Homo sapiens: one gene and its partner. The protein of the gene in region 1 purifies or fractionates together with the protein of each later gene. This does not show direct contact. Each region holds a gene or a part of one and is shown on either strand. Other genes may lie near its edges.

What was found.
Region 2: the proteins of RFPL2 (region 1) and PASK purify together in Homo sapiens (affinity purification with mass spectrometry, with the first as the bait; one large-scale study listed by BioGRID). This does not show direct contact.

What each region holds. Positions count from the first base shown.
Region 1 is NC_000022.11:32,201,520-32,207,692, forward strand, and holds the start of RFPL2 (ret finger protein-like 2), read right to left. Parts: upstream 3,555-6,173; 5' UTR 3,188-3,554; exon of another isoform or gene 2,784-3,187; intron 1,959-2,783; exon of another isoform or gene 1,122-1,958; intron 1,032-1,121; 5' UTR 933-1,031; coding exon 814-932; intron 1-813.
Region 2 is NC_000002.12:241,125,422-241,129,625, forward strand, and holds part of PASK (PAS domain-containing serine/threonine-protein kinase), read right to left. Parts: intron 2,031-4,204; coding exon 775-2,030; intron 1-774. UniProt on the Homo sapiens protein: Serine/threonine-protein kinase involved in energy homeostasis and protein translation. Phosphorylates EEF1A1, GYS1, PDX1 and RPS6.

The DNA.
Region 1 (6,173 bases):
TACAGCTGCCTGGCAGCTCTAGGACATGGCGATTCTCTCAGGTACTTGGCACAGAAAGTCACTGGCCTTCTTTGGAGGACGCATCATTTATAGAAACACTTCTTTATTGGATCCTGGGTCTCGGGTGGAAAACCAGGTCCCACATCAGGACTTTCTCTGTGAGGCTCCCAGGTTCTGGGGCTCCAGCTGCTCTCTGAGAGGAAGGTGTGGAGACAGAGAACATAGCCCAGCCCCACCCAGCCCCTCTTGCATTGTCCCTGCTCTGTAGGGAGTTAGAAAACTGGGGGCATCAGCAGCAGCAGGCCTGTGTCACTGTGGGTGGGGCCAGGGAGGGGCCGAGGGGCATCCTGGGTGAGTCTCTCCCACGGCTCCTGTTTGACTTGCCCATGGCCACTGTCACAAATGACCCCTAATTTAGTGGCTTAAAATAACACACATTTATTCTCTCCCAGGTATGGAAGTCAGAAGTCCAAAATGAGGCCTGAGCTGCTAAGATCAGGGTGCCAGCAGGGCCGGGCTCCTTCCGGGGGCTCTGAGACAAATCCATTTCCAGAACTTTTCCAGCTTCTAGAGGACGCCCCCAGCTCCTGGCCCTTTCTTCTAACTACAAAGCCAGAGCTCAGCATCTTCAGATCTCTCTCCTGATCTTCTCTCCCCCCACTTTCTGTCTTCCTCTCCCTGGACTCCCCTCTCCTTCTCTCTCCCTCCATCCCCACATCTCCTCCTCTCACTGTGACCCTCCTCCTGCCTTCCTCTTTCCCTTATAAAGACTCCACCCTGGAGCAATGCGGAAAACCCAGAATTGTCTCTCACCTCAGGCTCCTTATCACCATCATGTCTGCAAAGTCCCAGTGGCCACACAATACAGCACATAGACAGATCCTGGATTGGGACACTGCAGTCTCTGGGAAGCCTAATTCAGCCACCTCCATCGGAGGCAAATCATGGTGCCACAGGCTCTAGCCTCCAGCCCGTGGCATGTAGCTCCTTCTCAGGGCACTGGGCATCCGGGCAGACAAAGCCAGAAAAGCCTAGAACAGGATGCAGAGTGGTAACATTAGAGCGCACCTTGTCATGCTGGCCACTGGGTGGCAGGGGCCGGTTTCAGCGAAGGTACTCACACCCACACTTCAAAGTCCAGCCTCTCCTTTTAGCGCAAGCTGGCCAGGAACTGCGGCCTGGAGTGGGGACTGCAGACACCACAGTGCCCGGGCTTCCCACTCCACAGGAACAGCTGCAGCCACCCTGGCTGCACTCCTCGGGAAGCAGGAGCAGCAGAAACTCAACCCCAGCCAGCCCTCCCCACCCAAGTGCCGGTTCCCGTTCCTGATGCCTCCTCCACCCACAGGGCCCTGTAGCCTCCTCGTGTCCACTACTGCGTGCCCCGGGGTCCCAGGCGGTCTCTGCAACACAGAGCAATAGGAGGCGGGTCCAGGAAGCACCACGGGGCTGGGGCCCCTGCCGCGCTCAGGAAATGCTGTGCGCCCGCCGCACTTGAGCAAGAACAGGAGGAGGTGGCCGGGAAGAGGAGGACCGCTCCTCTCTTGCAGACCACCGCTGTCACTGACACCTCCACCGCCCGCCACCGGCAGTGCAGTCCCAGATGGCGCCCCTAACTCATCCGTGCCTAGTACATGCAGCACCCAATGGCGCTGGCAGCCTGCCCCCTGCCACGGGCAGCGCAGCCCGGGATAACTCCCCAAACCCGCTCTGTGCTGTGGGCAGTGCAGCCACGGATACCACCCTCAACCAGCCCCTCGCCACAGGAAATGACTCCCGGGATAGCGCCCCAAATCAGCCCCCAGCCTCGGGCAGTGACGCCTGGAGTAGGTCACCCAACCCAACTCCTGCGCGGGCAGTGCAGCACCAGATAGCGCCCCTAAAACGCCTCCCGCCACCGGCGGTGTAGCCCAGGATAGCGCCGCCAACCCGGTACTCGCCGCGGCAGTGTAGCGATAGGGCACCCAATCTGCCACCCACCGCCGGCAGTGCAACCCCAGATAGCGCACCGAACTCACTCCCTGCTGGGCAGTGCAACCCCACATAGCATCCAACCCGCCTCCCCACCCAGCCACTGGCAGTCCGCCCCCGATAATGTCCCATACACGCTCCTGGCTGTGGGCAGTGCAGCCCATGGGTAGCGCCCCCAACCAGCCCCCAGCCATGGGGAGTGATGCCTCGGATAACACACCCAACAAGTTCCCCACCATGGCACTGATGTCCCAGGTAGCGCCCCCAATCCTTGCCCCTCAGCGACCAGTGCAGCCATGGATAGCGCCCTCAACAAGCCCCTCCACTGACCCCCGCCGCTGTGGGAAATGACGCCCGGGATAACGCACCCAACCCTCCCCCGCCATGAGCAATGCAACACGCACTACTGCTCCTTACACGCCCCCCACTACATGCGGTGTAGCCAACGATGGCGCCCCCATCTCCCCCTCGCCTCGGGCAGTGTAGCTCCCGATAGTGCATCCAACCCATTCCCTCTGCCCCTCTCCTCCCACCGAGTCAACCACCGCCGGCAGTCCAACCCCAAATAGCGCACCCAATCCACTCCCTGCCAGGCAGTGAAGCCCCCCGATAGCACCCAACCCGCACCCCCACCCCCGCCACTGGCAGTCCGCCCCGATAACGCCCCAACACGCTCCTGGCTGTAGGCAGTGTAGCCCATAGATAGAGCCCCCAACCAGCCCCCAGCCAAGGGCAGTGACGCCTCGGATATCACAGCCAACAAGTTCCCTGCCATGCGCACTGATGTCCCAGATAGCGCCCCCAACCCGTACCCCAGCGCGACCAGTGCAGCCACGGATAGCGCCCCCAGCAAGCCACCCCGCGGCTGCGGGAAATGACGTCCGGTAAAGCACCCAACCTTCCCGTGCTGTAGGCAGTGCAGCACCCAATACTGCCCCTAACACGCCTCCCACCACCGGGTTGTAGCCCACGATGGCGCCCTCAATCCGCCCCCGCTCCCACCTCGGGCAGTGCAGCTCCAGATCGTGCATCCAACCTGTCCCCCTCCCCGCCCCCTGCCGCAGGCAGTGAGCCCTGGATAGCTCATCCACCCCGCCACCTTTCTACATTCTGGCTGCGGTCTAGTCTCCCTCACCGCCACCAACGGCAGCGAGCCGAGCCATGCTGCTGCAGGCTTTCAAGCCTCCAGCGTGGGACAGGTGACTCCTCCTCTAACCTGGGCATGGAGCAGATGGGCTGGCAGACGCAGAAGTGCCTGGAATGGCAAGAACCCCTCCCCCCACAGACCGAGGTTATGCAAGTAAGGTTTCTGGACTACATGTTCAGATTGGATGAGAGAAAAACCTCTAGGTCTACTCTGATTGTGCTTTATTTTCACGTTCTGACTGGATGACAGCAAGTCTTAGGATAACCAATCAGAACAAGATAACAAAGCCCGATCAGAGTAGGCCTAGAGGTTTCTCTCATCCGATCAGACTATGTAGTCGAGAAACTTCATTTGCATTAAACTCAGTATATAAAGGATGCCAAGAGGGGTGGCTTGCCCTTCCAGGCTCATCTGCGTCGGCCTGCGTAGCTGCTCTGTGCCCGGCTTAGAGGAGAAGGAGGAGGAGCCACTTGCCGCGCATGCCAGAGGCTAGAGTCATCTACCGCGCATGCTGGAGGCTGGAGCCTACAGTGGCTCACCTCGCTGCTGCGGTTGGTGGCCGCGAGGGTGACTACAGCGCAGCCAGAATGGTGAAAAGGTGGCAGAATAGGTTCGTTATCCCAGGCCGTACTGCCTGTGGCGTGGGGGGCGGGTTGGGGGCCCTATCCAGGGCGTCACTGCCCGTGTTGGGGGGCTGCTTGAGTGTGGTACCTCGGGCGTCACTGCCCGCTGAGGGGAGTGGGGTGGGGGCGCTATCCGGGGGCGCTATCCAGCCTATGGCTGGAGATGGGTTGGGGCGCTATCCGAAGCTGTAATTCCTGCGGCAGTGGGGAGTTTTGGGGGCACTATCTGGGGATGCACTGCCCGCGGCCGGGGGGCGGGGGTGAGTTAGTAGAACTATCAGGTGCTGCAATGCCCTGATGCCCTTGTTGGGGACAGGTTGTGGGGGGCTGGTGGGTGCAACACTGCTGGTGGCGAGGGTGGGTGCTGCTATCCGGTGCTACTCTGCCTGTGGGGGACGGGGGCGGGCGTGATATCCAGGGCATCATTGCCTGCATCTGGGAGCTGGTTGGGGACACTATCCATGGCTGCACTGCCCACAGTGGGGAGCGGGTTGGGGGCACTATTTGGGGCTGCAATGCTGGTGGTGGGGGACGGGTTAGGGTCACTATAGGGTGCTACACTGCTGGCAGTGGGGAGGGGGTTGTTGAGGGCGCTCTCTGGGGGCTACACTGAGACAGGTAGCGGGGGGTTGTTGGGATTGGTACCGGGGCTGGACTGCCCATGGAGAGGGGGTGGGGGCGTTGGTTGGGGGCGCTATTGAGGGCCGGGTACACTGCCTGCGGTGGAGGGGTGGGTTGGGTGCTATCAGGGGTCTGTACTGCCTAGCAGGGAGCGGGTGGGTGTGCTATCTGGGGCTGCACTGGCTGCAGCAGGGGCAGGTTGGGTGCACTATAGGGGGCTACACTGCCCTTGGCAGGGGGTGGTTTAGGTGAGCTGTCTGTGGCCGCACTGCCCGAGGTGGGGAGTAAGTTTGGGTGCTATCTGTGGCTGCACTGCCTGGAGGCAGGAAGTGGGTTGAGGGTGCTATCCTGGGCTGCTTCTCCTGGTGGGGAGCAGGTAGGGGCACTATCCAGGGTTGCACTGCCCGGGGTAGGGGGCGATTTGGGTGCCATATCGGGGCATCACTGCCCACGGCAGGGGTCTGGTTGGGGTCGCTACCCATGGCTACACTGTCTACAGCCACTGCCTACGGCAGGGAGCGGGTTGGGGGCGCTATCCCGGGCTGCGCTGCCCAAGGCAGGGGGTGGGTTGCGGGTGCCATTGGTGCTGCAGTGTCCGAGGCAGGGGCGGGTTGGGGTTGCCATCTGGTGCTACACTGCCAGCTGTGGGGGAGGGTCGGGGGCGCTATCGGGGGCTGCACCGTCCCCCTGGTGGTGGGCAGCGGAGGTGTCAGTGACAGCGGTGGTCAGAGGAGGTGAGAGGGACTCCAGTCTCTAGAGGGCCATCTCCTTCTGCTCCTGGCCAGCACACAGCATTTCTGCGGGGATCCTGAGCACGGCCCGGCCCCTAGACCTGCTGTGGTTCCCAGGCGCGCGCCCTCTCACCATGTGTTGCTGAGACCGTCTGGGACCCCTGGGCACACAGTAGCGGACATCATGGAGTGACAGGGCCCTGTGGGTGGAGGTGTCAGGAAGAGGTACCGGCACTTGGGTGGGGAGGGCTGGCTGGGGTTGAGTTTCTGCTGCTTCTGCTTCCTGAGGAGCGCAGCCAGGGGTGGGCCCAGCGATTCGTGCCGAGTGGGAAGCCCGGACGCTGTACTGTGGTGTCTCCAGTCCCCACCCCAGGCCCCAGTTCCTGGTGAACTTGGGCCAAAAAGGGAGGCTGGGCTTTGGAGGGTAGGTGTGAGTGCCTTTGCTAAAACTGGCCCCTGCCACCTAGTGGCCAGCATGACAAGGTGAGACTCTAATGCTACCACTCTCTGCATCCTGTTCTAGGCTTATCTGACTTTGCCTGCCCAGTTGCTCCGTGCCAGGAGGAGGAGCCACTTATTCCATGCTGGAGGCTGGAGCTGGGGGCACCGCAGCTCACCTTGCTGTGGTTGGTGGTGGCGATGGAGACTACAGAGCACCAGAGCGGTAGGAGAGCAGCAATGGAGACTGCAGAGTGCCAGAGCAGTAGGAGGGCGGCTGGCTGCTGCCTGGGCAAGGGCAGGCCTGCTGTGGTATCCAGGTGGTAGGAGCCTTGTAGGGTGGACCAGTGGACTGAGGGCAACAGGAACAGTGGTTGTATTGGCATCAGTGCTAGTGGTGGCAGCAGCAGCAAGTCTGGAGGTTGGGAAGGCGGGTAGGAGCGCTCCAGGGCTGACCCGCCCGGCTGGGCCTGGCCTGGGGTGGGTAGGAAGCTGTGGGCCTCTGGGGCAGCGGTGGAGGCGCAGCCTGGGGAAGGAGGAGTCTCCTCCGCTTCTCCTGCAGAATCTGGAGGGCGCCCTCCTCCTGGTAGGTCCTGAGCCAGGCGTGAGTGGCAGCATTGTGTCATTATTAACAAAGTTTGG
Region 2 (4,204 bases), on another chromosome or scaffold:
AATCCCGTCTCTACTAAAAATAGAAAAAATTAGCCGGGCGTGCTGGTGGGTGCCTGTAGTCCCAGCTACTAGGGAGGCTGAGGCAGGAGAATGGCATGAACCCGGGAGGCGGAGCTTGCAGTAAGCTGAGATCGCGCTACTGCACTCCAGCCTGGGCAACAGAGAGAGACTCTGTCTCAAAAAAAAAGAAAAAAAAAAAAAAAAGAAATGAAAATAAAAAAGAAAGTAAAACAGAATCAATCTCAAAGGGGCAAGCAGAGGGGCCCGATCACATGACCCTCACAGAAGGGCAGGTTTTTCAGAGATCAGGGCAGCCTAAACACCAAAAGCACGGAAGAAGAACACGTGAGCATCTCACCACGCTCACATCCCTCTCGGCCTGTCTGTGTGACCACTGAGGTGGGGGCTGGTGGGAGGTGGAGAGACAGACTCTAGCGTGACACCCCCACGCTTCTCCTGCTCCCGACGGGATCTCCCCAGGCTGCTGGGAGGAGCGGCTCTCTAAGTGTATGGCCTGAGTCAGGGGGCACAGCTGGAACTGACGGGCATGGGGCAGGTGGCCTGGGACCTTGGGCGCCACCCTCCCCAGGCACACACATTCGTAATCTTAATTTTCTAGGGGTGGATGATATGCATTCTCCTTGAAAACATGATTTCTGCTAACACTATTCCAGGGTGAAACCCCATCAGACCCCAGAACAAGGAAGGCCCTGCACCCCCACTGCACTGTGCTCTGGGAGCACCACACTTCTTCCTATGGGGCCCGGGACATACTCAGCCGTAAGCCATCTCGATGGTAGCAGCTCCCGGAGTAGGCACCCTCCTGGATCTCCCGCTGCAGGCCAGCAGCCCCGCGCATCACGATCACGGGCGTGGAGGTGACCTGGACGTTCAGCCTTGGCTCCTCTGCTGATGGGCACGTGTCCTCAGGGCCAGCATCCAACGTGGAAGGAACGTGTCCTGGGCTTTCTCTGTCGCTTGCTGCATAATGCTCAGAGGACACCAAACAAACCTCAAGCGGTTCTGTTGGATCATGTCCCACACAGCTCTCCCGGAACCGTCGGCCTTGGCCAAGGTCAACACAGGTGCCGGTCAGTAGTAACAGCTCCCTGTCATCCAGGACACACGACCCCTGTTCCTGGAGACTGCCTACATCTGGATCGGAGCCCACTGCCAAGGAAGAGGGTGTCTCTCTGAGTTCAGACGTAGCACAGGAACAATTTGATGACGTTTGGTCTGTCTGGTCACTGAAAAAGAGTTCCTTGAGGTTCCAGGAAAACGAATTCACATCAACCTCCTGGGCCTCCACTGCTTCCAGGCCCCCAGGGAGGTCCGTGGCCAAGGCATAGCAGGCTGAGGAGCTGCCCGTGCAGCCACCGCACAGGTCTCTGCCTCCCAGATCGCAGGACGACACAGGAGCGGTGACAGCCTGGCACTCTGTCGGAACGAGTTCGGCGTGGGGGACATCCAGGGCTCCTGCAAGGCTCAACTGGGACAGCTGCTCCTTAATCAAGCAGGTCTGCAGCTCTTCTCGGTCGTTTTCCACTCCCAGCCACGGCTCATCTAGAGTAGGTGTCCCAAACGAGAGGCCTGCCATCCCAGAGGGGCTGGGGGCCAAGTCCTGGCTTCGCCACCACAAGCCCCATTCACTCCCATAGCAAGGGCAGTGCATCAGGAGGCTGCCCCCCGCCAGCTGACCCTTGGCCTGGGGCTTGGCCACGGCAGCCCCAGCCCAAAGGTCTGAACCGCTGGGACCACTGACTCCCATCCGCTCTAGCTGGGCCTTCTGACACAGGCCACACATGCCAGCATCACTGCCCCCATCCTCAGCTGGGACTGGAGCTTCAGAATCTTCGCAGGAAGCAAATGGCTTCACATCCACTGGTTCAGACCTGCTTTCTCCCAGAAGATCCTGTCCGGGGCTCTCTATTGCCACAGGTTCCTCTCTCCCCAAGGCAGTGATTTGCTGGTCCTTGGGCAGCGCCTGTTCACCGTGCACTGGCAGGCTTCCTTCTGGGACATTGTCCACCCTGGGGATAATGACATGGGTGACCATCATGTAGGGCCACAGATGAGTCAAAAGGAGAGATTGCACCGATTCTCCATTAGAACTAAGTACAAAGCATTTAATGCCACCAATTTATAACAAGAAAAAGACCAAATTTTGTGACCAAGTTAAAAAATAAAGCACTTAGTCTCAAATTTCTCCAAATTAAGTCCACATTTAGAAATGATTTTGCAGAGAATGCTACCAAAAGCCCAACAGTAAAGTACAGGAGAACTTGCCAATGCTTTGGTCAGCGCTCTCGCTTCATCTCAGGGCCCCCAAACCCCCCGTCAGCCGTGCAGCCTAGCCTCGGCCCCACCTGCAAGGGGAAGTCCGTGCTGCTGCCTTGAGGAGGTGTGAGAGGAAACGAGAGAGAGATTGGAGAGTCCCTGGTAAACTCCACAACAGTAAAAAAACAACTGATTGACTACAAACACCATCCGATTTCACAGCCGACTAGGGAAATGGCTCTCAGATTTGGGAAATGGCTCTCAGATGGGGCCCACACAGAAGGGGCCAGGGGCCAGGGGGCCGGGCGTGGTGGCTCACGCCTGTAATCCCAGCACTTTGGGAGGCCGAGGTGGGCAGATCACTTGAGGTCAGGAGGTTCGAGACCAGACTGGCCAACATGGCAAAGTCCTGTCTCTACTAAAAATACAAAAATTAGCCCGGTGAGGTGGCAGGCACCTATAATCCCAGCTACTTGGAGGCTGAGGCAGGAGAATGGTTTGAGCCTGGGAGGCAGAGGTTGCAGTGAGCTGAGATTGTACCAGCTCACTGGTGAGATGGGTGACAGAGTGAGACTCCGTCTCAAACACAAACAAAAAAAGAAGGGGACACGGGCCGAAAAAGAGAGAGGAGGCTGGTGAGGGCGGCTCCTAAGAGGTGGCACACAATGTCCTCCAGCATTCAGCACATGGTGACCCATGAGGAGGCTGCCACAGTCCAGACAGGATGATCACAGAGCCAAGGGACCCAGGCCTCCTGTCAGCCCAGCCACTGGCCTCCACATGACAGACTGACACTGGGCACCAGATGCACAGAATGTGACCGCACCACCTCACTCGGGGACAGACACACAGGTTAACATCAGCAACCTAATAAAGGTATACCAGAGGCTCAGAAAGAGGACAGGATCGGGCACAGTGGCCCACACCTGTAATCCCAGCACTGTGGGAGGCTGAGCCCAGGAGTTCGAGACCAGCCTGGGCAACATAGTGAGACCTCGTCTCTACAAAACATTTAAAAATTAGCCAGCGTGGTGACACACACCTGTAGTCTCAGCTACTTGGGAGGCTGAAGCGGGAACCTCGCTTGAGCACAGGAGTCTAGGCTGCAGTGAGCTGTGATCGCACCACTGCACTCCAGCCTGGGCAATGGCCAAGACCATCTCAAAAAAAAAAAGACGGAAGAGGAAGGATACAACCCAAGGGTGGGTTCCACAGAGAAAGGGATTGTGAGCCAAGTTCTGAGGAAAAGCAGTTTTCTGAGGGGAACTGAGGGGGAGGCTGAGGGTCTGCGTCTGCCTGCCTCTCTCCCTCCATGTCTCCCGCCTCTCTCCCTCCATGTCTCCCATCTCTCTCTCCCCTGTACCTCCCTCTCCCGCTCTCCATCCATCCCATGCTTGAGACAAACCCCATGCAAATGCTAGGAAACTGCACATCCTCCTGCAGGATCAGGTAAGACAGGAGGCGAATGCACACCACGAGGGTCTCACAAAGCCCCTTGCCAAAGAGTCTGGGCAACTTCTGGGGCACAGTCCAGACACAAAGCTGAGGCCCCTGGGCAGCACTGCATCTTCACCCATGCTCTTGGGGCCTTAGCGGGCTGCTGCAGCCTCAGTACCCGTTCTCTCCACAGTCACCTGGGTCCACGGCCCTTCCATCAAAACCCTTGGGCCAGATGTGTTTGGGGATTTCAGAAAAGTCATATGACCACTTGCTAGGGAGACCCCAGCAGGCTGGGGAGAGGGCTTCACGGGCATCCACTGCCCTGTGTCTGCAGCAAGGCCTCTGAACACTCAAACTGCAGAGGTCAAGGGAAAACCACAAACAGCTTCTCACGTGCTTAGGGCCAATTTGACCGTCCAATGCTTTTAGCATCAATTCTAAGAAAAATATTTCAGTGTTGGGGGCTTTTTGGATTTCATAATTTTGG